Homo sapiens: one gene and its partner. The protein of the gene in region 1 interacts with the protein of each later gene in a biochemical or structural test. Each region holds a gene or a part of one and is shown in the gene's direction. Other genes may lie near its edges. The genes, in order: MAN2A1 and SEC23B.

Region 1 (15,630 bases):
GGACTCAAATTTTTGGGCTCCAGTGATTCTCCTGCCTCAGCCTCCCATGCAGCTGGGACTATAGGCATGCATCAGTGAGCCCTGCTTGCCCTCACCCTTGAAGTTCCCATGTGCCCTTTCCCAGTCACAACTCCTTTCTTCCACCGCGAACTAGACATTGATGCTTAGTGCTTTGTTGCTTTCCTTTATGCTTTACATGTAAGTATGCTTCTCTAAAGATACAGCTTATTCCCTGTTATTGAACTTGATATAAGTGGAGTCACACACACACACATGCACACACACACACATCATTCTGTATTTAGATAGCATGCAATCTAAGGCTTGGTTTTGTGATGAAAAAGCTTTAGACGTGGAACCAGAGAACTGGGCTTCTAGTCTAGTCTCCTTGAGACCTCGGGCAAATCTTTTTACCTTTCTCCATGTAAAATGTTTGGATGTTCTAAGTGTCTTTGAAGCTTTAGAGTACAGAGTTGTTAAGCCTTTCCTATTTGAGTATTGTGTGGCATATGAAAATCAGAGTCAAAGAGAATCCATAGAAAGGCCTAGTCTGGCTGGAAATAGACCTCCTCTTCCCCCAAATTAGGCCAATTGTAGTGACAGCAAACAAAGGCTTGTAGAAAAATGAAAGTGATGATCCTACATCACAAATAATTTTCTCATCTCTGATAAGTGCACATTTAGACATATTATTAGCCCTAATTATACTGTACATAGAGGATATTTTCCCCAGGATAAATCATAGCCATAAAGATTGTAATTTCAAGAGTTCAGAGTTCAAATAAGTAATCATATATTAGATAATATAGGTTTTTCTGGAAAGAGACAGTTTTAAACATTTTATTCCATTCTCTCTGTAGATGTATTTGTATTTCTACAAATACTGCCTATGGTAAGTACTGCAGGCTGGCTCACTCACTGTCCATTCTCCTCTCTTCTTATGGTGGCTTTTGTACTTCAGAGGCTGGAAAATTAAAACATTTCCTAGACTTCTTTGCACGTAGAGCTATGATATGAATTAGGTCTACAATTCGATACACTCATGCAAAACTTAAGAGAAAAGAAGTTAAGGCATCCTCCTGACCACTTTTGGTGGCATTTCTCTTAGAATTAAGGTCATAGAAACATTTTTCTGCAGCAGTGTTCCATGGTCCATTATTCAGCCTCCTGGAAGACAATATGCAGCAGAGGCCGTTGACAGCAGTAGGTTTTTGACTCCATCTTCTGTCATAGGGTTATGTTCTTGAACTCAGTGTTCCAGTAGTCTTCAGAGGTACTAGCTTCACTGATAGGTCACTTGGTATTATACGGGGAATCACTTTTGGAAGCTTGGTCTACAGCCCATTTCTTCAATCCTGACATGGATTTTTGTAAGCATCCTCTATTAAATAACTTCTTGCTTAAAATACCTAGAATGATTACTAATTTTTACACTTAATCTGAGCAATACACTTCCTAAATGTTATTTTCAAAAATCTATTCGTTGTAATACGAGGTATAAAGTATCATAATTCTATAGAATGCTGCATCAAAAGAGGAGTTTTGAAACCAGAAAAACGAAGCTATACCATTTAGTAGCTAACTATTCTAAAGCAAGTTATTTAACTTCTCTGTATCTAAGTTTCTTTATATGTAAAATAGATGTTAATATAATAGTCTTGCAGAGTTATGATAATTAAATGAGGCAACATAAATAAAGCACTGAGCATAGATGCATTATATGGTGTTCATTTCTTTCTATCCCTATATTGGACTTCCTTTCGTGATCGAGATGATTAGTAAAATAATTTGGGGGAGAAATTATCTTTAAAGCGTTTTTTATTAAAGAAACGCTCACTTTATAGGAATATAAAGATTTAGTGCTGACTCACAAAGACAAAAGGAATAGCTTTAAATGCAGCTCAAAAGCAAACAGACATCTATTACGAGCCAGGGCAACTCATAATGGGCACCACCAATCCACATCAACTGGTAGCTCAGGACCAAGATTAGTATTCACTCATTCAACAAATATTTATTAGGCCTCAATATTGCTAGACACTATTTTACTCACTAAGATACAATGTTGAATCACAAGGTCTCTGACTTGTAGCAGCTTGCATTCTATTGGGAGGATAGACATAAAATAAGTCAATACATAATTTCAAATAGTGAGAAGGGTTATAAAGAATAAAGTCCTTCTCCAGCTCTCCTTCCCTTACCTTCTTATGTCTCTCTCAGCAGTGTATTATGCTACTTGACTCATCCTCTCTTGCAGCTTCCTTTCATGGGAAGAAAGGCACAGGGAGGTAAAGGCTATGCCAACAATATGAAGAGTCTCTGAGGTAGGTGGGTAATTTCAAGATCTGTAAAAGGTCGAGGGGTCACTACTGTTTCGTGGATGTCAGTGGAAAACACAAGACACCCTGATTAGAGACAAAGGAAGATGTTAAAGAGACAGGAAGATGTTGAGCCTGATGTCGGTGCTAGTTTCTCATGTCCCCCAGATCCCACAGGGTCTGAGGGAAAGGGTCCAGGTGGATGCAACATACACAGTGGATTTGTCACAGCAAAGGAATATTGAGCTTGAGGAATTTACTGCTTTACAGTGTGTGGTAAGTCAGTCTGCTCATTGTTTGGGAGAAGACATTACTCTGTTGCTCAAGGCTGCTCCCTGCAAACACAACCCTGAGAGGACACAAGTAAATAATGGTCAGGGCCTTGCATTCTTAGCATACCCAGAAAGAATGTGTAAGGATGCTCAGGGCTTTGACAGACTGATTCTCACAATAGGTTGAGTGGAGAAAAGGATTAAACCCGCATTCATTTATAGTTTTATGCAACCACAATTATAAAATTTTCTCAAGTTTTTAGGCTTTAGAACTTTGTCCTACTCCTTTCCAATTTGTCCCCCTTAGATATGATCTATTTAGGCCTTTGAGGAGCTCAGACAGACTTAGAGTATCAGTTGACAGAAAAGATAGATTTTCCTATTGTTAGCAAATATAAGCTGAGGCTCTTGTGCACATACAGACTTATCACCAGAAGCATGGGGCTAGACCTCATGCCTTCCAGAAACCTCACCCCAAGCACTCCTTCGAGACCTTTCCTATTCAAAATTACATTGAGTGCTCACTTTAACTTAATCTTCACTGCAAAAATGTATATCAGTGGGTAGGAAAAATGACAGATATCTATGATATGCTCCCAACCTGGAGCATTCCTTGGGTGGCCGTTGTTCTTGCATCCTGGTAGAAGGGGTTCTTCCTGGATTATGCTCACAGTACACTTTCATTGAGCTCTCAAGCCATAGATCGATGACAAGGGAGAAAATGGTGAACTTGCTCCATGAGAAATCAATGCTCTCCAATTATCCACATGGACTTCCTTCTCCATGTCCCATAGCAGCTGTTTCCAATGTTCTCTCCCCTACTCACCTCTCAATTGCACCCATCTTTCCCTTTCCCAGAGTAAATGGAAGTATCTGGTGAATGCTCTCCCAATATGTCACTACCTGTGGCAATCATACAGCAAGGCTGAAAGATCACTGTTACTACCCCAATATAATATGTTGGAAAATGGAGGCTTAGAGATATTATGTAACTTTCCCAAAGTCACAAAAGCTTTATGTACTGGAGAAGCAATCAAATTTGAACCTTTATGATATGGGTTCTGCCCTCATGTACCTTCCCTTCCCTCTATTTTCAGTGTTCCTACAAAAAGCTCTAGCCTCCTGAGCCCCAGAAACATGTACACTATAGAGAATGTTTGCTTTCACTTTTGCTAGAAAATTTTCTCATAGCATAAGGATTAAATCTGTAGCAATTTGTTTCCCTAATGACAGAGATAATTGCTCTGATCCAAAGGGAGGATAAAATTTCTCATATCTTTCCCAAATGAAAAGATTGTATCCCAGGATAGGCACCTAGGTTTGTTCTGAAGGTCCTGGGGAAACCAGAATGTCTGTCTGTCTGTCTATCTATCTATCTATCTATCTATCTATCTATCTATCTATCTATCATCTATCTATCTTTCTATCTGTCATCTATGTCATCTCATCTATTTATCCATCCTATGTATTTATCATCTAATTTATCTGTATATCTCTATCATCAATTTATCAATTATCTATCAATCTATTTTCCAGCTTTATTGAGGTATTATTGGTAAATAAAAATTGTATATATTTATGGTGTACAACATGAAGTTCTGATACATGTATCCATTATAAAGTGATTACCACAAGTAAGCTTATTAACGTATCCATCACCTCACATAATTACCATTATTTTGTGGATGATGAGAACGCTTAAGATCTATCCTCTTAGCAAATTTTCAGTACACAATACAGTATCATTAACCATAGTCACCATGCTGTTTGTTAGCTCTCCAGAATTTATTCATCTAATAATTGAAGGTTTATACCCTTAGACCAAAATCCCCCCATTTCCTCCACTTCCCAGCCTCTGGCAACCACCATACAACTTTCTATTTCTATGAATTTGACTTCTTTAGATTCCACATACCAGTATAAGTGAGATCATGAGGTATTTGTCTTCCTGAGTCTGGCTTATGTCACTTAACATAATGTTCCTCAGGTTCATCTAAGTTGTTGTACATGATAGGATTTCCTTCCTTTTTAAAAGCTGAATAGTATTCCATTGTTTATATATACCACATTTTCTTTATTCATTTGTCTGTTGATGGACACTTAGGTTTATTCCATATCTTGGCTATTGTGAATAATTCTGCAATGAAAATGGGAGTGCAGCTATCTAATGAGATAACACCTCACATCTCTTGGAATGGCTATTGTCAGCTTTTGGAGACCTAAAGACTCATATGTTAGTAACAATAGGAAAACATACAGCTTTTTCATAAGTGATAGTAAAATCTTATTTCAGTAAAGTAAATAAGTGATCAAGATCATCCAAATTAATTTTCTGAAAAAGAGAAGTTGCTTTGGATATATACACAGGAGTGGGATTGCTGGATAATGTGGTAGTTCTATTTTTAAGTTTTTAAGAACTTCATACTGTTTTCCACAATGGCCTACCAGTCTATAATCCTATAAATAGTGCACAAGGGTTCCTTTTCTCCATTTCTTGGTCAACTCTTATTATTATTTGACATGTTTCTAGTAGCCATCCTAACAGGTATGAGGTAATATCTCATTGTGGCTTTCATTTACATTTGCCTGATGATTAGAAAACCTTTTTTTTTTTTTTTATATGGAGTCTTGCTCTGTCACCCAAGCTGGAGTGCAGTGGTGCAACCTCTGCTCACTGCAACTTCTGCTTCCTGGTTTCAAGCGATTCTCCTGCCTCAGCCTCCACAGTAGGTGGGATTATAGGCACCTCCCACTACACATGGCTAATTTTTGTATTTTTAATAGAGAACGGATTTCACCAGTGATCTGCCCGCCTCAGCCTCTCAAAGTGCTGGAAGTACAGGCAGAAGCCACAGTGCCCGACCTAGAGCACCTTTTAATATTAGCTGTGGGCCATTTGTATGTCTTCTTTGAAAAAATGTTTATCCAGGTGACTTGTTCATTTTAAGATTGGGCTATTTATTTATTTACTATTGAATTATGTGGGTTCATTATATATTTTGGATATTAGTCCCTTAACAAATATGTGGTTTGCAAATATTAGGTTGGTGCAAAAGTAATTGCGGTTTTTTTGCCATTACCTTTAAAAAATCACAGTTGCCATTACCTGCAAAAACCGCAAATACTTTTGCACCTACCTAGTATTTTCTATCAGCTGGGTGGTTGCCTTCTGTATTTGTTTGCTAGGGATGGCATAACAAAATACTAAGGACTGGCTAACTTAGACAACAGAAATTTATTTTCTCAGTCTGGAGGCTAGAAGTCCAAGATCAAAGTGTCAGCGGGTTTGGTTTCTCCTGAGGCCTCTCTCCTTGGCTTGCAGATGGCTGCCATCCCAATCTGTCCTCACATGGTCTTTTCTCTGTGTGCATGTATCCCTGGTCTCTCTCTCTTCTTATAAGGACACCAGTCAGATTGGATTAGGGCCTTACTAACAGCTTCATTTTAACTTAATCGTCTTTTTAACTTAATCTCCTCTTTAAAGACCTTATCTCTAAATACTATTACACTCTGAGGTACTGGGGGTTGGGACTTCAACACGTGTATTTTAAAGAGAAACATTCAGCCTATACCACTTTCCTTCCATGGCCACGTGATTGGTATGACCAGTCCCTGCAACAATCACTTTGCCCCTTTTCCCCCAAATCCTAACCATTGCTAACCCACACCATCTGTTTGGATTCATCTCTCAGTGACTCAGTGGTTTTGTCCTCATATAGCTTTACCATCCTAGAACATATCCCACATCCGAAGTGACCACTTTAGAGTTGTCATCTCATACTCAAGATCATTATCTCCTTCTCTCTGGTTCAAATATATATTATTACAGCACCTAAAATACTTACTAATTCCTGCTCATCAGGTCCAATCAGCATAATGTTGTCAATGTAGTGGACCAGTGTGATATTTGATGGTATGTCAAGACAATCAATATCTCTGTGGACTATATTAAGGTGAATTGACATACCCCCAAGACAATACTGTGAAGGTATCCTGTTGGCCCTAACATGAGAAAGCCAACTGCTTCTGGTGGTTTTACAAACAGATATAGAGAAAACAGCATTAGCCACATCAGTAGCTATATACCAAGTGCCAAGTGCTATGTTGATTTGTTTCAGTAAAAATAATACATTTGAGACAGCAGCAGCAATTGGAATCACTTCCTGATTAAGTTTATGAGTCCACAGTTATTCTACTAGATGTATCCTGTACTGGTGAATTAAATGAGAGTAAGTATCACCACTCCTACTCCTTTTAAGACTTTTATGATAGCACTGATTCCTGCAATTCCTGCCAGCCATGCAGTGTTGTGTTTAGTGAGCTAAGTGGAAGCTCTAAGAGCTCCTGGAGCTTCCATTTAGCTCTCCCTAATAATAGCCCTCATTCTATGGCTAAATCCCAATGTGGGGATCCTGTCAGTTGCTAAGTATGTCTGTTACAATTATTAGATTGGTGCAAAAGTAATTGCTGTTTTTGCCATTAAAATTATGCTGTTAATACATATTCCAATTACACTGGGAAAGTAGCCACATAGTTGGTATGTGGACTAACAGTGGTGATTTCTGTCCCCAGGAATTAGCATCAACTCAGAGCCAGTGTTTAGTAAACCTCAAATGATCTGTGTATTTCCTTTTCGCCAATGCAGTTTCACTAGTAAATGGCCACATGTCGTTTTGGGGAAAGCTTGAAAGAATTTGCCATGTGTACTGTAGCCAAGGTGCAAGATCCTTCTTAAAGGGAACACAGATTCTCTTTCAACCAAGGGACTATGGGTCTGTGAATTGACTTAGGTCTGAGAACTGAGAGACTGTGACTATCCACTGTGGTGACTCAAGTCAGGTTTTGGCTACCTGACTTAGATCTTTTTACCTGTTATAAATATCAAGCAATAATCTATTTCAACTGCCTATCTATTTTGTTCTCAGAGCAGCTCCGTAAGCCAAGGCAGTCTGATTTCCTGCTGCCCTTTAAGGTACATGTGCGCCCACCTTGTCTTTGTTGGTTATGTGCTGCCTGGTTTCTGCTATTCTGAGATCGTGTCATCCCCATTGAAATCAGGGAGCCCATCTAGATAGTGGCATCCTCTATAGTCAAGGTTTTCAAGCAAGGCTAGTCTCTTTAGACACTGGAGGGCAACCTACTTCCACTGATAAGAGAAAGAGTTGGCGTGTTTAAGATTGTCGGTTTCATCTGGGTCCAACCCATTTCAAGTATTGAGATTCTATTATTAAAAAATAACACCATTTTACACGAAAAACTCAGAATATGTGTGAATTTAATAGCAGTTATAATTCAGTAACATGAAAATTAAAATTTTGTTTGATTCTCAGCATAATTCTTGTTGCTACAATAAACCAGAGCTTTTGGAATTCTGCAGAATATCTCTGGTTCTCATACCATAACTCTGAGAGTTAAAAAACCTGTGCTTGTCATTTCTCTTTATAACCACTCAAAAGCACGCAAAAGAATCCATCCCACACCAGTCTTTCTAGTCATCTTTATAACCATAGCAGTCAAGTGTAGCAGCCACTTGGGGCCCCAAGGCACAGGCTTCAGTTGGCACTTCATCAGGATCAACCACAGGTAATTGCTTAATTGAGATGCCCAGCATGTCATGAATTACATTTCCCTTTGGCAAGGAGCTAAAGCTCAAAACCTCAATCAAACTGACCTTTAATCCCATCTTTGCAGGTCTATTTCTTGGGACTACTCCCGGGACAGGGAAGGCTTAATAAAAAGAATTGTTAACTATAATAGAGGATTAGAGTAATGAAGGATTCACTAGCAAGAAGAGAACTTTAAAGAATATAGCAACAGCAGCTATAAGGAGCTAACCTTATAACTAACTCTTGGGTTGAGAGACAGAGTGCCCAATGAAGAACCTCCCCAATTCCTCCCAGGGCTAAGATCTAGACGTTTTTGGAGAGGGCATGACCTGGCTCACTGAATGGCAGAGAAGTCACCATTGGGCTACGTCTGCAAAGCTTGTGGAAGATGTGCCCTCTGCAACTTGCTGCAAATGCCTCTAGGGTGCCAGGGAAGTTATTCATGGGGTAGTGTCTCACCTCCTCTACAAAGCTCCTAGAGTTGGGCATGTGAGAGGAAATTGCTAGTTACTGAGCACTATAGGACCTTGGCAGTGGAGAAAGCCAGGTATGCTGCAAAAGCTTATCAATACACAGAAATCAGGAAGCAAAATCCTTTTTTTCTGTAATGTCTCTTCAGCGCCCTCTGCTGATAAAGCTTCAGTCCCAGAAGGCAAACGAAAAACTGTTTAAAAGGCTCAGATCCGTTTTTACAGTGCAGTCAAAAAGGGCGAATTTGGAGCTGAGAGGCAATAAATCAATAACTGGCAGAAGCATCACTTCTCAGATTACACTCATGGATTTCGTAGTCAGATGTTTCTACATGTGCCTGGACGGCCCTTTGTCAGTCTCCTTTCCCCCAGGTTTTAACAGGCTGTCACCAAAGGAGGAAATAGTGAGCCCGAAGAGAATGTGCAAGCCCTCTTCTCTTGCATTTCCTCCAGCCCGTCACCAAGTACTCTTCCAGGCACGCCAGGCCCGAGTGTCCTAGGATAGGAAACCTGAGCAACAAAGGGAAGTGGGGTGTAAGCTCAACCCCTGTTGGACGTGGGGGTGCTGGCGCCTGAACGCCCCCGAAGGCCTCAACTCCCAGAAAGCTGCCTGCCAGGTCACAAGAGCCCTGTGAGGTCTTCCTATCGCCGGGACACTGGGAGGCAGGCGCGGGGCGGGTCCGCCGGGCGACGCGCTGTGATTGGGCGCCGTGGGGCCCGCCCCCTCATCTCGGAGCGTCGGGAGGGGGCGGGGCCAGCCGCCCGCTCGGCTCAGGCGCTGCGGGCGCCTATTGACCCAGCGGCTGCTGCGCCGCCGCTGTCTCCTCCTGCTCGTGGCGGGCGGTGCTGGAGCGCCAAGTGGCGCTGGAGAACCGGCGCTTCCTTTCGCCGCTTCCGCCGCCATCTCCGCGTTTGTGGGGCGGGAAAGAGGGAGGGGGCTAGCGGCTGCAGCTGGAGCGGGCTTCTCTCCGGGGACGGTCCTTTCCTCCCTGCTCTCCTTTTCCTTCTTTCCGCGTTGCCGCCGCCCGCCCCCTGCGCCTCCCCGCGGAGCCTGGGTCCGGGAGGGGGAAGGTAGGGGCGGCGGGGGGCGGGAGAGTCTGGCGAGCGGACGCTAGCTCTGAGGAAACTCATCAATCCGTGAGCCCCGGAGTCCGGGGTGCACATCGGCCCAGCCGCAGCGTCGGCGGCGGCGGCGGCAGCAGCACGAAGGGGCTCAGTCGGGGTAGGCGGGGGCGGTGCCGGTGCCGCGGGGGCGGGCCCGACCGTCCCGCCCAGAAGTTGTAGGGCTTGGCTCCTCGCGATCTTGTTCCTTTCCCCTCCGCTTCTCTGACCTAGCTGCGCGGCCCCGGCCCGGGAGCTGCCGAACCCGCGCCTCCCCTGGGTGAGGAGGACACGCCTGCCCTCGTCGAGAAAACTTTTCCTGCCGACTCAGTTGGGGCGGCGGTGGCAGGAAGTGCGGGCAGCGACCTCTCCTCCGCCTGCCCCGCGCGCCCTGCCGGAGGTCGGCGCTGAGCTTGCGATCAAGTTTGTGGGGGCCCCCCTTCCCAGTTGCCGGCGAGTCTCGCCTCGAGAGGGGCGCCCGACCCCGGGGAGGGCGGCAGGCCAGGGCGAAGGCCAAGGGCGTGTGGTGGCGCCGGAGACTAGGTGCGGAGCAAGGCGGGGACTCGCACCCGCATCCGAGAGCGCGGAGGTCGCGCAGCCCGGGAGAAGGGAGCCTCCGGCGGCTGCTTCCTAGAGTCCACAGTGCGCTGTCTCCTTTGGCTGAGGAGAGTGTCCTGGCCCCGAGTCTATCGAGGAAAATGAAGTTAAGCCGCCAGTTCACCGTGTTCGGCAGTGCGATCTTCTGTGTGGTGATTTTCTCGCTCTACCTGATGCTGGACCGGGGTCACTTAGACTACCCCAGGAACCCGCGCCGCGAGGGCTCCTTCCCTCAGGTAAGCACCTGGGAAGGGGGCGCGGGGCTCCGAGGGGCCAGGCGTGCGGGCCCCTGGTTAGCGGCTGCTACCCAACCTCTTCCTCCCGCCGCGGCCCCACACCCGTGCTGGGCGAGGCCAGGGGCTCTGTAGCTCTCGGACGGCAATGATCACCTCCTGGGAGCCACCTCGCCCGGGCGCGCCAAGTTAACAAAGTGCTGGGCGGCGTGCGGCGGCGGCGGCGGCATCATCCCGCTCAGGAAAGTGGCCATGTTCCGGCATTCGCACCCGGCCTGTTGGGGTGGCTTCGGGCACCTGCTGGCGGGGGAACGGGCGCGGCGTGAGGCACCCCCCGCCAGCCCGGGGCCCGCGTATCCCGGTGGGGTCGTTCTCGGCTCTCACAGGGTTAAGCCGCCCGCACCAGCCCAGAGCCCCTGAGCGCACGGAGTCGCGGAAATGGATCAAACCGAACCCACCTAGGCTTTTTTTTCTTTTTCTTCCCCGCTGCCTCTGAAGAGAGAGAAGTTTATTTCGTGTTGCGGCCCTTTTAGATGTGAATCTCTAGGTTGATTTTAGTGTCGTCATTCTTCAGCTATTACATCTGGTTTGTTTGTGGCAGACAGGGGGAACCGAGTGGGGAAGCGCGTGTTATACTCCGGCCGAAAGCTGTGGGGCGCTCAGTCCTGCGTCCAGTGGTTAAATTGGTAAATGAGTTGGGAAGACGACCCATCCAAAGTCTTATTTAAAGTTACCAAAAATAAGCAAAGCGGACACAGTCTGTTCCCTTTGGAAGGGTATCCACCGCGCGGCATGTGCGAGTTCAGTTTCAAGTTACTTGCCAATATAACCCGTGCACTTCAGAAATTGCGGTGAAACTGGGTATTGTGTAGTGTGTAGTGTGCTCTGTAACGAATGAACCTGAAGAACTCAAACCCTGACAGGGCAATCTAACTATTCCTACTTGACTTACGAGAAAGAGAAGCCTAGACGTGAAGTTGATATATATTTTTTTCTCTTTTGTGATAACTTAAATGACCAAAGAATATCCTTGCCATTTTTTTTGTGTTATGCTAGAGCAAATGGCTTGAATTTAATTGAGATTAAAGTAAAAACTTTACTGGAATTATTGTGAAAGTGAAAAAAGACCCTTTTATGGATGCTGTCATCAATACAGAGCACTCAACATGTTTTGTCGGTGAGAGGTTTTAAAAATCTTGCTGCAGAGAGATGTATCAAAATTTTAAAAGCCTCTGCTTCCCCTAGGTAGTATGACAGAGAAAATAGAAACAAGCACTGAGGGCATCTTTAAATCTTGAGCTCAGAGCTTGTCCAGTGCTTCTTGATGAGGTTGAAGAAAACAGTTGGAAAAAGGTAAGGAGTTTTAAGCTTAGCTTGATATGTTGTGTAATTTTGGGGTTGAAATTACTGTAATTTTTTTCCCTCCAGTAACCTCATTTTCAGATTTTCCTCCATTACAGGAAAATCATAAAAAGTGATATTTTTACTTAAAGTGTTTTCTAAAATAATGTCCTTTGGCTTTGGCTTGATGATCACTTGAAAATGGTTTATGCAAACATCTGGACCTGGGTTTTCTGGCAACCTTGACATTTTCTCTGTTCAGAATCTAAAGACATGAGTGACTCATTCAGTTACTGAGAAATCTTAGGCAAAGCTAATTCCAGTATTGTAATATCTATCCTTAGTCCTCAATGAGAGGCTGAAGTTCTGCTTTAAGCGTAAAGCATTTGATGAAAGGTCAAAGTGGCTGCTGGAGGGGAAGGCTGTTGGTACTCAACTGGGAGGTGGAACATTTTGCATTTAAGATTGCCTTTCTCAGATTTTCTGTACTGGATTTTCACTGCAGAAAGAAGGTATTCTTTAAGTGCTTGGACGGCCACTGAATCCTCAAGCAGATAGACATTCTAAGACCCCTCTGTAAGCTTAACCGTTATGTGTGTGACATTAGCCTTCGTATCTTACAGGGTAAAACTTAAGTGGCGAGGGGACTGAGGCACTGAGGCACGGAGAGATTAATTAGCTTGCCCAAGATCACACAGCTGCAAGCTGAGATTTGAACAGGTAGCCTTTGTAGCCCAGGCTCCCAGCCACTGAGTTGTCTTGCCTCTTAGGAATCTGTTGCCTACTGTTTAGGCTGCCATTTGCTTATGGAAAGATCTGATGTAAAATATAGAGCAGTGATCCTCAACCTTTTTGGTACCAGGGACTGGTTTCCTGGAAGACAGTTTTTCCACAGACAGGGGTGGGGATGGGGGGAGTCGGGGGTTTCGGGGGATGGTTTGGGGATGAAGCTGTTCCACCTCAGATCATCAGGCGTTAGATTCTCATAAGGACCATGCAGCCTAGATCCCTGGCATGCGCAGTTCACAATAAGGTTCGTGCTCCTATGAGAATCTAATGCTGCTGCTGATCTGACAGGAGGTGGAGCTCAGGCGGTAATGCTTGCTGACCTGCTATGCCACTCACCTCCTGCTGTGTGGCCTGGTTCCTAACAGGTCCATGGCCCTGGGGTTGGTTGCCCCCTGTATAGAGCATGTTGCTCTCTGGTACCTTAGCTTATGACTAAAGGAACTTTTATTTTGAAGCCATAATGAATATGGTCCTTTTTCTGAAACATTTACTGCTAGAGATTTATACCCTTCCCAGAATGTCTTTGAGCTCATTTCAGAGCTAAACATTATAATGAAAACCATTGTGTAGTCCAGCATCCAGAACTTGAGTTGATTCTTTTTTTTTTCACTGCTTCTAACTTATTCTTAATAATACCAAACATAGCAAAAGGAGGTTGCAATACATTTGTTTGGCAAGTTTGGGTATTGAATTCTTGAGTTTTAGTAGAGCCAAGCAGGTCGGTCACTATGTGTCATTTTTTGGTATCTAGTAGAACGGTTTATTTAGATAGGTATTGGGTTCCTCTAAATTGCCCATTTAGTTGGTTTCAGTTGATACGGAACCTTCACTAGGCTTTAGGTCTATCTTGTAAACAAGATATTTTTAAAGACCATCCTAGATTGAGAGCAATCTATTTGTTGTTTTTTTGGAGAGCGGGGGTTTGTTCTTTTTCTCTTCTCTCACAACTCTGGTGTTTTCCACCATTTGGCTGGACTCTGGGGCAAGAGTGGGCTGGCCGAGGGTGCTCCAGTTTCTCTCACCCCGGAACAGCTGCCTGCCTCTAAGATATTCTTTGGAAGTCTATCCTGAAGCACTCCGAAGCCTTGCTTCTGCTTCTGGGAGGAATTCCTTGGAGGACTAGAGGCAACAGGGGGCCTAATCTGTTGAAACTTGTGTGTATATTTCAGGGTTAATAAATCTCAGCTAAGAAAATTAATAAAAATTCCACTGTGAATGAGAGGTTGGTCAGAGACTAATGTCTTGAAAATGCTTTATGATAACTTGGAAGAATTTGAGCAGATGGAAAGGAGAAACTTTGTTAAGGTCTCCCTGAAATTAGTCATCACTTCTTACAAGCAGATTTCACAAGGTGCTTACTATCTATGGTGTGTATAATAGGGTTGTCTTATTAATTAGTCTGATGTTTGGATCTGGAGAAGTAAATTAATGAGTCAGGTTTTGTATAACAAATGATCACTTTTTAAGTAATTAGTGTAGCATATGACCGTAGAGATTAATATTAACTCTTAAAATATGGAAATTGAGACTCCGATGGAAAATGTGAAAGTGAAGTTAAAACTTTATCTTTTTGCCTATGTAACATTTATCAAGTGAGAAAGTGAGAATGCCTTTAAATAAGCATTTGATTGAAAGCCATTAGAAGGTGAGAACTTGTATACCTTTTTTTTTTTTTCTTTGGGATAGGGTTTTGCTCTGTCATCCAGGCTGGAGTGCAGTGATGGAATCACAGCTTACTGCAGTGGCCTTGAATTCTTGGGCCCAAGCCATTCTCCCACCTCAGCCTTCTGAGTAGCTGGGACTACAGGTGTGTATGCCACTGTGCCCAGCCAGTTTTAAAATTTTTATTTTGTGGAGACGGGGTCTTACTATGTTGACCAACTGGTTTCAAATTCTTGGCCTTAAGCTATTCTCCTGCCTCAGCCTTCCAAAGTGCTGGGATTATAGGTGTGATTCACTGCTCCCAGTTGCCTTTTGTGTTTTTTTTTTTTAACTTACTGTAATACACATACAGAAATGTGCTTACATACTTTACATCAGTAGTACTTAAGAGTCCAGCATAGTAGATGTTATTAATGAAAGTTGACTCATGGCAATACATATAACTAGGACTTTGATTCCCCAGTTTTTTTCTTGCTTTCATAAATCTGTAAATCTTACTTAAGAATGACATATAAGGAAAATATGATCTCCTTCCCCTTCCTTGAGTGCAGTCTATTTATAAACAATAGCACTTGGTGCTGGGGTTTGTTCACGTTTGTATGAGGGAGATTGTCTTATTTTCTGGGATATAATGCGGAGATCTGTGCTTTTTGGGAAGTGATGGAACGTTGATAGTGCATCCAGCATTTAGGAATGCAAGAACAAACATTAGAGCCTTTTGAGGATGGTGTCCTCTAACTCCTCTTCAGTCCAACAGCCCTGTGGGTCTCTTCCTGATCAGCATTTTTCACTAAGACCCAAACTTATTTCCTGTAAACCAACTGGGCCAGATACTCATGACTGTCTGTGGTCTGAAGATAGTAGTTTATGTTTTGTTTTTTGTTTTTTTTAAATTGAATTGGGTGTGTTGTTCCCAGATGAACACTGTTATCAGGGCCTAAACAAATATTTTTGTCAGGGAGATGTCACAATTGTATTATTGGAAGGGGATTTTCTCTCTTAGCTTTTAATTTGCATTAAGAGGTGTCTGGGCTGTGGGCAAAATAGTGGCTAAAATGACCACTTTTATTTGTTTTTGAGTCAGCTATTGCTTTTTGTGATAACTGAAAACTTTAGTCTTTTTTGAAGGACTGAAGTGTTGAGAGTTTCCTGGAATGAGTGGTTCACTAGCTGTTGCTGATCACCTGGTTTATTCTTAGCTTTTTTTGCATTCAGGAGTCTTAGTTTTCCCTTGTTCTCCA
Region 2 (15,072 bases), on another chromosome or scaffold:
ATTTTTGATAATTGAATGTGAACTTGCAAAAGTGTGTCTCACGAAAACTCCCATATTTGGGTGGATGTCCTGACTGGGGCTCAGGCTATAGGTCAGCACTGGACACTGGAGGGTGGATTTGGATGACACCCATCTGGCTCTAGTGTTCATTTGTACCCAAAGCAGTGAGGATGGGAGGAGGGGGCCAAGAACTAACCCCCAAGGAGTCCACAGTTAGGGGGAGGAGGAAGACAAAACCATTGAAGAAGGCAGAAAAGGGTTGGTTGGAGAGATTATGAGAAATAGGAAAGTGATGTATTAGCAGCTGAAGGAGAAAGTTTCGAGACATTTGGGCAGTCACCTGGCTCATGCTGCTAGGAAGTTCAAGAAGACGAGAACTGCGGAAGGACACCAGATTTTGTGGGAAGAAAGTAATTGTTAGAAATGGGGTTTCTTTAAATGATGAACAGTCCAATTCTTTAGTGACCAGAAATGTGTGAGCAGAAATAAAGGCGGGAAGAGAAAACATTGTGGTTCAGAAGTCTGCCATTGGGAGAAATAAATTTGAGTTTTAGTGTGAGAGAACATCAAAGCGTAACTATAATTGTTAGTTTTCATGGTGTTAGAGGGTTTTCATATGGAACAGGTGCCTGGAAGAGCTCACCTAGCTTCTCTGGTTAGGGCAGTCCTCAGGCCAGCATTGCCTGAGAGCTGATTAGAGATGCAGAATCTTCAGCTCCTCCCTAGAGTCTGCATTTTAACAAGATCCCCTGGTCATTTGCCTGCTCACTGATGCTTGAGAAGTGCTAGTCTAGGACTTATAGTAAGTGGCAGAGTTCAGACTGGATGTAGCTTAGTCCAGGAATATTTCCAGGTAATGCTAACTTAGATTTTTCTCTCTCTTTTTGTGTGTGTTTGTTTGTTTTTTGGTATTTTCTTTCCATAGTGTCAAAAGTTTGGACAGTATAACAAAGAAGACCCCACTTCTTTTAGGTTATCAGATTCCTTTTCTCTATATCCTCAGGTAAGTAATGTATGTTTCTAAAATAACTACAGAGCAATAAATTTTGATAGAAATTAACTTTATTCTTAGGGTAAAGTGAAGACTTTTTAATGTGTTGAGACTCAGTCTGTAGGTGACAGAGATTGTTCAACCCAAGTCGAATATGTGTCTAGGCAAGACAGCACCCTACGCCCTACAGAAGATAGAGATGACATGCAGAGGGGAGAAAACTCATGCATACATTTTCATGAACAGGCAAAATAGGATCATTGATATAAGGCCGTAAAAAATATCTCTCATGTGTAGAAGTTCTGGGGAAACAGCTACCTCAGCAACAAACCAAGAAAATGAGCACACATGGAGATGAAGATAACAAAACAAAACCACAGTTAGTACAACAAATATTTAATAATATGTCTGTGGTTATTATGTGCATCATAACCAGGAGTGAGCAATAAGCAGCTCCTGAAAGTAACTGCACTCTGCATGAACCAAGCCTTTGGAAGCCATTGGACAAGAGAGAGGAGCAGGAGAAGTAGATGAATTTCCGTCTCCATTGTAACTTAGGAAATAGAGCACAATTCATGGGTGTCTATAAGGATTACAGGAGCTGAGGCCAACTGAGTATTAAATATTTAGCACAATGCCAGTAACCTGTTCAGCACTAAATGTGACCTAGCTCCATAGCAGGTGCCTGGGACTCTGAGGTGTCCATGTGCCAGAGGTTAAAGCTGTGTGGTGTTGTGAGAAGAGCCCTGGACCGGCCAGAGTCAGGTTGAGGTTCCAGTGCTGGCTCCGCAGGGGCTGACCTTAGAGGAGGTTCCAAAGCCCCGTAGAGTTTGGTTTCCCACCTCTAGCAGTGGGGAGTTGGTCTGGTGAAGTGGTTTGCAGTTTTTTTTTTTTTTTTTTTTTTTTTTAAAGCCATGGAATCCTTTCTTTGAGAGGAGCTGCCCTTAAAAGCCAGCACATAAAGCAGACAGAGTTGGTGCTTCTCTGGTTGTGCCTGTGTACCACCCCCACACTGGGTCCCACCAGAGCCCTCATCCCTGGGCCCCTGAGGACTTGATGAAGACTCTAAGAGCACAGCTTGAAAACCAGATGAAATGCTTTCTCAGATTCCTTCTGTCAAGGCATTCTAGGAAAGAGGCCAACAGCCCAGTCTCTAGAGCCAGGCGGCCAGGTGTAGAGTCCAGCTGTGACACTCAGTAGTGGGGTGACCTTGGACAAGTTGCTCGCCCCTCTGTGCCTCAGTTTCCTCACCTGTAAACTAGGGATGGTAAGAGAACTTACCTCATGGGCTTATTGGAAGGATTAAATAGTTCTTGTCAAGTGCTTTGTGACTTGCATGTAGGATGTATTAGATGTCAGCCTTGATTATTATTTAGGAACCTATGATTGAATATTTGGAGTCTCAGGAAGCTTTACACTTCACAAGGCAGCTCATTTTCGTGTTCTGGCAACTCTTTAATGTGAGCTGAAAGTCTGCCCCCACCCCTTCTTCTCATCCTCGAGGGCGAGAACCTATGGTTGCAGTGTCATCCCTTGTCCCTTTCTCCCCTGCACCAACACTTCACCATCCCAGCTTGTGTCCTGAGCTGTCATCTGCTGTTCCTGTGCCTGGAATCCCCTTCCCCCTGGCCCTGTGGCCTCCTCAGCCACGTCTCTCAGGGTGCACTGTCAGTCCCCGGAGCTCTAGGAAGTCTCCTCCTGGCCCTCCACCCCCACTCCCCACTGCTATCCTGTACTCTGGCTCATAACTCGTAGCCCGAGTGTGCCTTTCTCACTGGGCCTGACTTCTGAGAGCAGATATTCTGTCTCCACTGCCTGGCACAGTGACTCTGGAAATAAACATTTCTTTGGCTTTCCTCTTAACTGTGGAAGCTTTGACATACCCAGAGGCCCTTTTCTTAAAAAAATTTTGTATTTTTTTAAAAATTTTTAATTTTTAATTTTTTTGAGACGGAGTTTTGCTCTTGTTGCCCAGGCTGGAGTGCAATGGCCTGATCTCAGCTCACCGCAACCTCCCCCTACTGGGTTCAAGTGATTTTCCTGCCTCAGCCTCCTGAGTAGCTGGGATTACAGGCGCCCACCACCACACCCGGGTAATTTTGGATTTTTAGTAGAGACGGGGTTTCTCCATGTTGGTCAGGCTGGTCTTGAACTCCCGACCTCAGGTGATCCGCCCGCCTCGGCCTCCCAAAGTGCTGGGATTACAGGCGTGAGCCACCACGCCTGGCCAAAGGCCCTTTAAAAAAAAAAATTAATTTTTAATGTGGTAAAACACACATAACAAAATTTACCATCTTAACCATTTTTAAGCATACCGTTGAGTAGTGTTACGTGTATTCCCATTATTGAGCAACTGATGTCTAGAATTTTTCACTTTGCAGAGCTGAAACTCTGTGCTCATTAAGCAACAACTCTCAGTTTTCCTCTTTCCCTAGCCCCTGGTGCCCCCTTATGCTTTCTGTTCTGTGAAACCAGAGAGCCCTTTTCTGGGTTCTCCTATTTCAGAGCCCTGAGGTAGATCTACTCTGTGGGTGTCTAAGAAGGTTACAATTATATGCATTTCTCTTTCCGTTCTTTGTGAATGCAGTTTATGTTCCATCTGAGAAGATCTCCATTTCTTCAAGTGTTTAACAACAGTCCTGATGAGTCGTCATATTACAGACATCATTTTGCCCGGCAGGACCTGACCCAGTCCCTCATCATGATCCAGCCCATTCTCTACTCTTACTCCTTTCATGGGCCACCAGAGGTGAGGCTCTACCCAAATGCTTTCCTGAGGATTGGAATCACCTAACATATATTCTTTTTTAAGCAAATTTACTTAGCAGAACTGTAAAAAAGAAGTAAAATTTGGAGTTTTTATAGTAATTTAACATTATTTCTATTAAAAAATACCTTTAGGAAAATGTCAAAGGACATATAAAGCTATTATTTGTGAAAGGCAGGAATAAATGTAAAAAACTCTAGGAAATAACTTGGATGCTTTCTTTTTCCTTGTGCTTGTATACTTACATCCAACAATTCCATGTCTTGTATCTGAAGGAAAGACTCCTAGATACAGAGTAGACTTTGTGCCAAAAAAAAAAATAGTAAAGGAACTACTATAATAGAGGATCAAATAACAATCCGAATGTTTAATATAGGAAAATAAATAAGTAACCTGAGAAATGCAGTTGACCCTCAGTATTCATGGAAGATTGGTTCCAGGACCTCCCTCAGATACCAGAATTCTTAGATACTCAAGTTACTAATATAAAATTACATAATATTTGCATGTAACCTTGGCACATCCTCCTATATACTTTAAATCATCTCTAGATTAGTTATAATACCTAATATAATGTAAGTACCATGTAAATAATTGTCATACTGTATGGTTTAGGGAATAATGACAAGAAAACAAGTCTGTACATGTACAGTACAGATGCATATTTTTTTCAAATATTTTCAGTCCAAGATTGGTTGAATTTATAGATGTGGAACCCACCGATACGGAGGGCCAACAGTATTCACAAAAAGTATGTAACATAATAAAATAGATAAGTCCTTATGTAAAAATGTTACATGAAAAAAAGTCAAAATAGAAACGTTTCTAAATATTCCCTGCAAAAATAAAGAACTATATGGAAAAAAACAAAATATCAATATTTGTTGTACTTGGGTACACATTTAAAAATTTTCTTTATCGAGTACCACTTACTTTTATTATTGAAATAATTACTAAAATAGCAGGGGGATCACATGACATCAGGAGTTTGAGACCAGCCTGGCCAATGTGGCGAAACCCCATCTCTACTAAACATACAAAAATTAGCTTGGAATGGCGCCAATAATCCCAGCTACTTGGGAGGCTGAGGCTGGAGAATCACTTGAACCCCGGAGGCGGAGGCTGCAGTGAGTTGAGATCGCGCCACTGCATTCCAGCCTGGGCAACAGAGCAAGACTCCCTCTCAAAAAATAAAAATAAAAAAGAAATAATTACATATATAAAAATTATATGTGTATATGTAAATATAATAAATTATATATGTATATATAAGAACTATGTATATAAATATATATGTATATGATTATATATGTATATATAAATATAAATTATATACTTATATAATATAAAATATTACTTACAAATAAATAATAAACGTATTTTTTTTTGAGATGGGGTGTCTGTCACCCAGGTTGGAGTACAGTTGTGCGATCTTGGCTCACTGCAACCTCCGCCTTCCAGGTTCAGGTGATCCTCCCACTTCAGCCTCCTGAATAGCTGGGACCACAGGCACGTGCCACTACAGCCCGGCTAATTTTTTGTGTTTTTGGTAGAGATGGGGTTTTGCCATGTTGCCCAGGCTGGCTTTGAACTCCTGGGTTCAAGTGATCTGCCTGCCTTGGCCTCCCAAAGTTCTAGGTTTACAGGCATGAGCCACTACGCCCAGCCATAATTTATATTTTGTAGTAAACTTTAAAAACTTGTATTAAATGCTGCTTTTCATATAGGTATCCGTATTCTGTCTCATCTACAGAGAATGTCTGTAGAGATTGCTAAAATACATACAAAACTGAGAATATTCAGAATTATTTTTCGTTCCAAGATCAAAAGATATCATTAAGCCTGGACAACATAGTGTGAGACCCTGTCTTTACAAAAAATAAAAAATTAGTTGGGCGTGGTGGCATGCACCTGTAGCCTCAGCTACTCAGGAGGCTGAGGTGGGAGGGTCACTTGAGCCCAGGAGGTCGAAGCTGCAGTGAGCCAGGGTCACATCACTTTACTCCAGGCTGGGTAACAGAGCAACACCCTGACTCTTAAAAAAAAAAAAGGTATCATTAATCTCCGTTCTCAATTGATGAGGAATTATTTGGAGCCTATTTTTCCTACAAAGTTGAGAATGAGTCAGAAGCAGAAAGTGGAAGTATGTCAGGAAGAAAAGGGGTGACTTACTGTGCTGGGCACCATTTGTAAATAGCCTTTGCTGTGGATACCAGGCATGGGATCAGGGTCGGGTGGAAGTGGTTGCTGTGTGGGGAGCAGGGAAGACCAATGCCATCTTTCTCTCTCTTTTTCTTCAGCCAGTACTCTTGGATAGCAGCAGCATTCTAGCTGACAGAATTTTGCTGATGGATACTTTCTTTCAAATTGTCATTTATCTTGGTGAGGTAAGATGATATTATTAATTAATTAATTTCTTTTTGTTTTTAAATTGGAGAAAAGGCATACACATTTAATGTGCACACAAGGAGAATTATTGTCCTTAACTATGGTTTTTGTTTTCTTCTCTTATTTATTAAGTTAGGTTTTTAATGACATTTGTAACCACAGTTTGGGCTTAGAAAGCACCATGGCTTTTATTCTAGTAAATCCCTGGAGTATTTGTATATTTATTAATTTTAATCATATTTGCTGTTAAGTATGGGCCAGGTGCAGTGGCTTATACCTGTAATCCCAGCACTTTGGGATGCTGAGGTGGGCAGATCACCTGAGGTCAGGAGTTCAAAACCAGCCTGACCAACATGGCAAAACCCCATCTCTACTAAAAATACAAAAGTTAGCCAGGCGTGGTGGCACACACCTGTAGTCCCATCTACTTGGGAGGCTGAGATGGGAGAATCACTTAAACCCGGGAGGTTGAGGTTGTAGTGAGCTGAGATCACACCACTGCATTCCAGCCTGGTCAACAGAGTGAAACTCCATCTCAAAAAATAAATAATAATAATAATAATATATGCTGTAAAAAAATCTCAGGTGGTTATTTTAAATCACTGTAAATTATTACCTTCGAAGTTAGGCAAAACTAGTTTTTTCTCCTCAGTAAATATTTTATACATACTGCTGTTCTTTCAGAGTTATATACATACTGCTGTTCTTTCAGAGTTAGTGTTTAGAGCTAAGGTTGTACTTTGATGAAATAACATGGCCCAGGGAACTTTACGCTGTGTCTGTGGATCCCTAGGATGGCTGTGGATAGCTTTCAGTCCATTTCTTTCTCAGTGGGGTTCATGCCCTGAGAAAGGGAATGGCTCCTCTGAATTATTTGCATCTTTATGGCAAAAAATCCTTTAATGAAGATGATGGTGATATTTATATTCAGTGATGCTTTTTCTTCTATTGTATGATCTCTACCTTCTTAAATTGGTTATTGATTTGGTTTCCTAATGGCCAACCATTAGAAATGATTTCTGATGTCGTGAAAAGATATAAATTGTGTTTCAGGATTCCTTCAGTAACTTAGGAAGTGTTAGTTTTCTAATACTCCTAAGTATTTTATAACTTTAAACTTTTTTCAGCATGTTAACACCCAGTCTGCTAGCCACTTGCACGCAAGTGCTAGGCTGTCAGTAATAGTCCTAGACTGAGAGCCGGATGACCAGCTGCTCTTCCCACTGGAACCTTTGGTATCAGTACAGTTGGCCCTCTGTATCCACGGGTTCCACCTCTGCAGATTCAATCAACTGCAGGTTAAAAATAATTTTGAAATAATAATAAAAAATAATACAAATAAAATATACAGCACAGGCCGGGTGTGGTAGTTCATGCCTGTAATCCCAGCACGTTGGGAGGCCGAGGTGGGCGGATCATCTGAGGTCAGGAGTTCAAGACCAGTCTGGCCAACATAGCGAAACCCTGTCTCTACTAAAAATACAAAAATTAGCTGGGCATGGTGGCAGACACCTGTAATCCCAGCTGCTCGGGAGGCTGAGGCAGGAGAATCGCTTGAACTCAGGAAGTGGAGGTTTCAGTGAGCTAAGATCGAGCCAGTGCACTCCAGCCTGGACGACAGAGTGAGACTCTGTCTCAAAAAACAAAACCAAAAAAACAGCACAAGAACGATTTATATAGTTTCTACATTGTATTAGATATTATAAGTAATCTAAAGATGATTTAAAGTGTATGGGAAGATGTACATCGGTTATATGAAATACTATGCCATTTTGTATGAGGGACTTGAGTATCTATGGAATTTGGTATTGGGAGGAGTGGTCTTGGAACCAATCTCACAGATACCGAGGGCCGACTGTACTAAGGATGAAGCTTTCTTTGCCTTAAGCTCATCTCCTTATCGACATTTCTTTTGCAACCCCTGATCCTGTTCATTCACTTGTTTATTGAGCACCTTCTTGTGCAAGTGAGGGGTTCTAAGGATAAAGACAGTGACATTGCTCTCACCTTCCCAAAGTCCTGAGCGTGCTGAACGCGAGTGTTCTTATGAACTTCTGGACCCTGGTGAGCTCGTGGGCATTTCCCATAGGCCAACAGTCAATCACAGCATTTAGACCTGGAAAACGGTAACTGCTACTTTGAGAAGGAGTGAGCAGGCTACAGAAGGAGGCATCTGATGAGAATCCTCTGCCTGGAGCCATATTAATGGCTCTGTTAAGACACATTGCACACTTGCTGTAGCCTCTTTCTCCATTTTTCCTCTCCATTGTCTTCTTGTTCTCCTAAATAACATGCGAAAGCACTTCACTTTATTTATAAAGGTATATGAATCAGTTAATGAATGTTTCTTGATTTCCTGTGTATACAAGATATTTTCTAGACCAGTTGTGGATGAGTATAAAAGAAGGAAGGGTGATAAAATGTGTAGCGTAGTCAGGGAGACAGATCGTCTGCTTTCCACAGTTTAGCATATGGCTTCTCCTCACTGCCTCATCAACACTCATACTTTGATTCTTACAGCTTTTGTCTCCTTTGCCAAGGGTACCCCAATTCAGGGCCCAGGGGGAGCAGGGGATGGGGGTGAGACAATTGCACGCAAGTCTGTATGACTACTGCTCACCAGAGGAGTGTAATATGTGTGCCGTTAGGAAAGGAGATGGGGGAGTGGAGTCTGTGTGGGCAGCCAACAAATCCCTTTCCTTACCAGATGTGCGGAGATGAGAGGCTAGACTGAGTGATAACAGTGGAAGTGGAAAAGGAGGGAGTCCACCGCTCCTTGGGATGAGTAATCCATGGGCTTTGTTAACTAGTTGATATAGAAGAGAGGAGGCATGAGTGACGCCTGACATTCCTGGGGGAATGCGCAGGCGGGGGCATTTTCCTCCTGCTTCTCCTCCTGCCGGTAGCTCTGCTTTGCTCTCCCTCTGAAGCTTGTCATTTTTGATATTAGACTTCTTCACTAGAAACAAGCTCTGGGTGGCGATGGTAGAATGTCAGTGTCAGTGAAGGCTGTTATTACAGTTTCCACAATAGTTTTGGTTGGTTTGTTTCTGTGTAGACCATAGCCCAGTGGCGTAAAGCTGGCTACCAGGACATGCCCGAGTATGAAAACTTCAAGCACCTTCTGCAGGCACCACTGGATGATGCTCAAGAAATTCTGCAAGCACGCTTCCCGATGCCACGTTACATCAACACGGAGCATGGAGGCAGTCAGGTGAGTGAGCTGAGTTCTAACTCCAGTGGTTTGTTCGTTTTATGATAGATTGTTATTGCTATACATCTAAACAGGATGGTTAATATTTTATGTGATGACATAAATTGACACACAGGTAATCTTCCAAATATGACTTCTTTTTAAATGAGTGGTCAGGCCAAGCGCGGTGGCTCACACCTGTAATCCCAGCACTTTGGGAGGCCGAGGCGGGCGGATCATGAGGTCAGGAGATCGAGACCATCCTGGCTAACATGGTGAAACCCCGTCTCTACTAAAAATACAAAAAATTAGCTGGGCGTGGTGGCGGGCACCTGTAGTCCCAGCTATTCGGGAGGCTGAGGCAGAAGAATGGCGTGAACCCGGGAGGCAGAGCTTGCAGTGAGCTGAGATCGTGCCACTGCACTCCAGCTGGGGCTACAGAGTGAGACTCCGTCTCAAAAAAAAAAAAAAAATGAGTGGTCAAAATGTGCTTATGTAAAGGGATTGCCAAGATAAAATACATATTTTATGTTTTAGGATCCTTAAATGGAGAGCCAGTGGGCTTAAGCTAAAGAAATAGATTACTGTGCAGTAAAACAATTCTAATTAGATTACTGTGCAGTAAAACAATTCTAATTTAACCAAACAAATGTTGTAAAAACTTATCTTTTTTCTGTTACATTAATATTAATGTCACTTTTTAATCTTTAAATCTTTTTGTTGTTGTTGTTGTTAAAGGCTCGATTCCTTTTGTCCAAAGTGAACCCATCTCAGACACACAATAACCTGTATGCTTGGGGACAGGTAAGAAATCTTCAGGTATTTGGGGAGGATGCTAAGCTAGTTTTTTTTTAAACTTGTTTTAAAATTCTACAAATTGGATCTCTTTTGGCCTGGAGACAGAATAACTGCGTAAGTTGGGTATTTTGCTGGGGAGTGGCGGGGAGGGAAACAAGTTGAATAACATTACTGGGCCGGAGGTTGAGGGGGCTCCCTGGGTGTGTCCCCTTCCACAATATACAGCAGAACATACCAGGTTCAGGCCAGGGGACAGAGCACTGTACTGTGGCCTCCATGGTGGTGTCCTCCGTCACACAGCCTCATGGCCCCTAGTCCTCTCCCCACCAAGAATACAGGGCAACTTGTCACCATCGGTTTTGCCGCCTCCTCACTTTCCAGCCTAATTCCTTCCCTTTTCTTCCCCCAACCCCGCCTGATTACTACTTTATCTAACTGCTCCCAGCATTTATGTCTCTCTCAGATGAGTCTTTCCTTTCATTCTGTTTTCTTAAAACATTTTTAAATTAAATTTTTTTGAGATATTGTAAATTTACATATAGTTGTAAGAAATAATACAGAGAGATCACCTGTATCTTTTACCCATTTTCCCTTAGTGTTAACATCTTGCAAAAACTATAATACAGTATCACAACCGGGATATTGAGATTTTTAAGGTCAAGATGTGCAGCATTTCCATCACCACACTTATGCACTTTATTTCTATTATTGTTACATTGTAATATATAATGAAATAATTGTACAACTCACCATAATGTAGAATCAGTGGGAGCCCTGAGCTTGTTTTCCTGCAACTAGATGGTCCCAGCTGGGGGTGACGGGAGACGGTGACAGATCATCAGGCATTAGATTCTCATGAGGAGCATGCAACCTAGATCCCTCACATGCGTTGTTCACAATAGGGTTTGCACTCCTATTAGAATCTAATACTGCTACTGATCTGATGGGAGGTGGAGCTCAGGTGGTAATGCACGTGATGGGGGAGCAGCTGTAAATACAAATGAAGCTTCACTTACTTACCTGCCACTCACCTGGTGTGTGGCCTGGTTCCTAACAGGCCAAGGACTGGTACTATCCGTGGCCTGCAGTTGGGGACCCCTGATTTAAAGTGTATGGGAGGGTATGCATAGGTTATATGCAAATGCTACACCATTTTGTATTAGGGACTTGAGCATTTGTGGATTTGGGGATCCACAGGAGGTCCTAAAACCATTCCCCCACAGATACTGAGGGATGACTGTATATAGAAATACAATTGACTTTGGTATGTTTATCTTGTATTCTGTGACCTTCCTGAGTCGCTTACTACTCTTAGGAGTTTTTTTGTAAACTTCTCAGAAATTTCTACTTAGACAATCATGTCATCTGCAAGCCGGGGACAGTTTTATTTCTTCCTTTTCAATCTGAATAACTTTTACTTTATTTTCTCAAAGAATCAGCTCTTCATTTCATTGACTTTATTATCTTTTTATTTTCAATTTCATTGATTGCTGCTCTAGTCATTGTTATTTCCTCTCTCCTGTTTGCAGTAGGTTTTTAAAAACTCTTGGCTGGGTGCGGTGGCTCACGCCTGTAATCCCAGCACTTTGGGAGGCCAAGGTAGGCAGAACACGAGGTCAGGAGTTCGAGACCAGCCTAGCCAACACGGTGAAACCCCCGTCTCTACCAAAAATACAAAAATTAGCTGGTGTGGTGGCATGCGCCTGTAGTCCCAGCTACTTGGGTGGCTGAGGCAGGAGAATTGCCTGAACCCAGGAGGCGGAGGTTGCAGTAAGCTGAGATCACGCCACTGCACTCCAGCCTGGGCAACAGAGCAAGACGCTATCTTGAAAAACAAAAAGAAGTGAATTTATTATAGACAGCTTATAGTTGGGTCATGGTTTTTAATGCACTCTGCTGAGCTCTCTTACTTGGTATATTTAGACCATTTATATATAATGTAATTAATGATATGTTAGGGCTTAAGTGTGCCATTTTATTTTTTGTTTTCTGCTTTTCTTTTTTCATCTTACGTACTTTTTTCCTGCCTTCCCATGAGTTATTTGAACATGTTTTAGGATTCCCTTCTGACTTGTTTGTAATGTTTTTGAGTGTATCTCCTTATTTAGCTTTTTAAGTGGTTGCTCCTAAGTGCCCTAGGTTTTTTTATTTTAATTGAGATGAGGTCTTGCTATGTTGCCTAGGCTGGTCCTAAACTCCTGAGGTCAAGCGATCCTCCCACCTCAGCCTCCCAAAGTGCTGGGATTATAGGCATGAGCCACCACACCTGGCCAGGCCCTAGGTATTACATCATATATGCATAACTTATCACAGTCTACTGGTGTTCAAGCGAAGTCTAGAGACCTTACCTCCCTTTTCAACACTTTACTCTCCTCCATCGGTAATATAATTATGTTAAATATTTCCTCTGCATACATTTAGTATCACATCAGACAGTGTTATAATTTTTGTTTCAAGCATCAAACATAATTGATAAGTCTTAAAAGAAAAACCTATTATATTTCTCTACATGGTTGCTTTTATTGTTTTCTTTCTTTTTAGAGATCTTTTAGCCATTCTTTTTTTCTTTTTTCTTTTCTTTTTTTTTTTTTTTTGTTTTTTTGAGATGGAGTTTTGCACTTGTTGCCCAGGCTGGAGTGCAATGGTGTGATCTCAGCTCACCGCAACCTCCGCCTCCAGGTTCAAGCAATTCTCCTGCCTCAGCCTCCCGAGTAGCTGGGATTACAGGCATGCACCACCACGCCTGACTAATTTTGTATTTTTAGTAGAGACAGGGTTTCTCCATGTTGGTCAGGCTGGTCTCGAACTCCTGACCTCAGGTGATCCGCCCGCCTCAGCCTCTGAAAGTGCTGGGATTACAGGCATGAGCCACCGCGCCTGGCCTACTTTTAACCATTCTTTTAGCATAGGTCTTCTGGTGATAGATTTTTAGTTTTCTTTTATTTGAGAATGTCTTGACGTCCCTTTCATTTCTGAAGAATATTTTCTCTGCATATAGGATTCTGACTAACAGCCCTTTTCTTTAAGCAGTTGAAAAATATTGTGCTGCTTCCTCTGGCCTTTATGGTTTCTTATGAAAAGTTCACTGTCAGTCTCATTGTTTTCCCCTGTAGAGAAGGTGTCATTTTCCTCTGGCTGCTTCCAGTAGTCTTTTTCTGTTGTTAGTTTTCAGGGTGGATGGGCAGGGGCAGAGAAGAAAGTGTAATTATGACATGTCTTGGCATGGATTTCTGTGGGTTTATCCTGTTTTGATTTACTCAGCTTTTTGCTTCTGTAGGTTTCTATCTCTTGCCAAATAGGAAAGTTTTCAGTCCTTATTTCTTTGAATGCCTTTTCACCTGCTCTCTTTTCTTTCTTTCTTGACATCCAGTGACATGAATGTTAGATCTTTTGCAGTACCCCAGGTACTACATTTCCATGTATTTTCTTTCTTTTGTTCATTTGGGTAACTTCTATTGTTTTGTCTTCCAATGTATTGATTCTTTTTTCTGTTCTCTTTCTGCATTGAACCTATGCACTGCGCTTTTTGTTTGTCACTGTATTTTTCAGTTACAAAATTTCCTTTTGGTTCTCCGTGACTTCCACTTCTTTCCTGGGACCTTGTTGTTTCTTTGCTGAGGCTTCCTATTTTTTCATTTGTTTCAAGTGTGTTTGTAATTGCTCATGAAGCATTTTTATCATGGCTGTTTTAAAATCTTTGTCAGGTGATTCTAACATTGTTGTCAACTTAGTGTTAACACCTGTCACTTGTCTTTTTTAATTCAGGTGGAGGTCTTGGTAATCACTTTGTGTAAGTGATTTTTTTATTGAAACTTGGACACTTGAGTGTTTGTATGAGACCCTGGATCTTATTTAAACCTGCTACTTTTCGCTGATTTTTTCTTACACTACTCTGACAGGGAAGGTGGTTGGTGGGGGGGGTGTCGGGGGCACTGGTGGGCTCCATTACTGCCAGGTGGAGAAGTCCAGGTTTTCCACTGGCCTCTGTTGACACCTCGGGGTGTCTAGTGATTTCTTGTTACTGCTTAGTGGGAATGAGAGTTCCAGCTCCCCCATAGCCTCCAGTGAGACCGCTGTGGAGATGGCCTTGTTACACTTGGGTGATGGTGAAAGTCCTGACCCTCCTCCAGGCCTCTGAGGCCACCCCAGTAGGCAGGCGGAGGGACATATATTTTGCCAGGTTGCGGTGGAAGTCCAGGCTCCCCAAATGGCCTCTACTGACACCACAGGGGTAGGAAAATTTTTTTACTTGGCCATTGGGGATGAACTTCCTGGTTCCATACTTAGCCTTCTCTGGCACCATCTTGGTGGGAGTATTAGGGTGCCTTGTTACTGCCTTGTGAGGGTAGAAATTGTAGCTGCCCACCCAGCCTTTGCTGGTTCAGGTGGGTCAGGGCCACAGTTTTTCCTCTCATTTTTGCCCGGAGTACAGTGGTTATTATCTAAGATTGTTCTGTCTTGCTAGGCTGCTTTAGTCCTTTGGCTAGAGAAAGTGGGTGTTTTTTGTTGTTTTGTTTTGTTTGAGTCTGTGCTCAATGACAATTTGCCAGCTTCCTCAGCTCCAAATTCAGAGTATATGAGGCATAAGAAAGCCCAAGGAACTCACTGCTGTGCATCCTTGGGTCCCAAGGTCTTTAGTTTTTCTGTCTTCTCTCCACCTTTAAAAGTCTTCTTATGTTTGGTTTACATAAGATGCCCGAAGTTTTCAGTTGTACTTAGTGGGAGGAATAGAGAAAAGTATATATTCTATTCCTTCCTCGAAATCCTCTGAAAACATTTTGATCATGCTTACACTTTTCTAATTATAACAGTATGGTTTCATTTTAGAAAATTTGAATATGTTTTAAAAAATAAGAAAATTTAAATTACCTAGAATCATTATTTAAAGAGTTAACTATTTCCAGCTTTTTTCTACGTAAAGTGTATTATTGTGTG

The links.
Region 2: the proteins of MAN2A1 (region 1) and SEC23B interact in a test that uses a peptide from one of them, tested with the Homo sapiens proteins (one study listed by BioGRID).

What each region holds. Positions count from the first base shown.
Region 1 is NC_000005.10:109,679,953-109,695,582, forward strand, and holds the start of MAN2A1 (alpha-mannosidase 2), read left to right. Parts: upstream 1-9,974; 5' UTR 9,975-10,465; coding exon 10,466-10,600; exon of another isoform or gene 10,601-11,147; intron 11,148-11,929; exon of another isoform or gene 11,930-11,950; intron 11,951-15,630. UniProt on the Homo sapiens protein: Catalyzes the first committed step in the biosynthesis of complex N-glycans. It controls conversion of high mannose to complex N-glycans; the final hydrolytic step in the N-glycan maturation pathway.
Region 2 is NC_000020.11:18,545,031-18,560,102, forward strand, and holds part of SEC23B (protein transport protein Sec23B), read left to right. Parts: intron 1-925; coding exon 926-1,003; intron 1,004-3,578; coding exon 3,579-3,740; intron 3,741-6,058; coding exon 6,059-6,145; intron 6,146-9,204; coding exon 9,205-9,360; intron 9,361-10,077; coding exon 10,078-10,143; intron 10,144-15,072. UniProt on the Homo sapiens protein: Component of the coat protein complex II (COPII) which promotes the formation of transport vesicles from the endoplasmic reticulum (ER).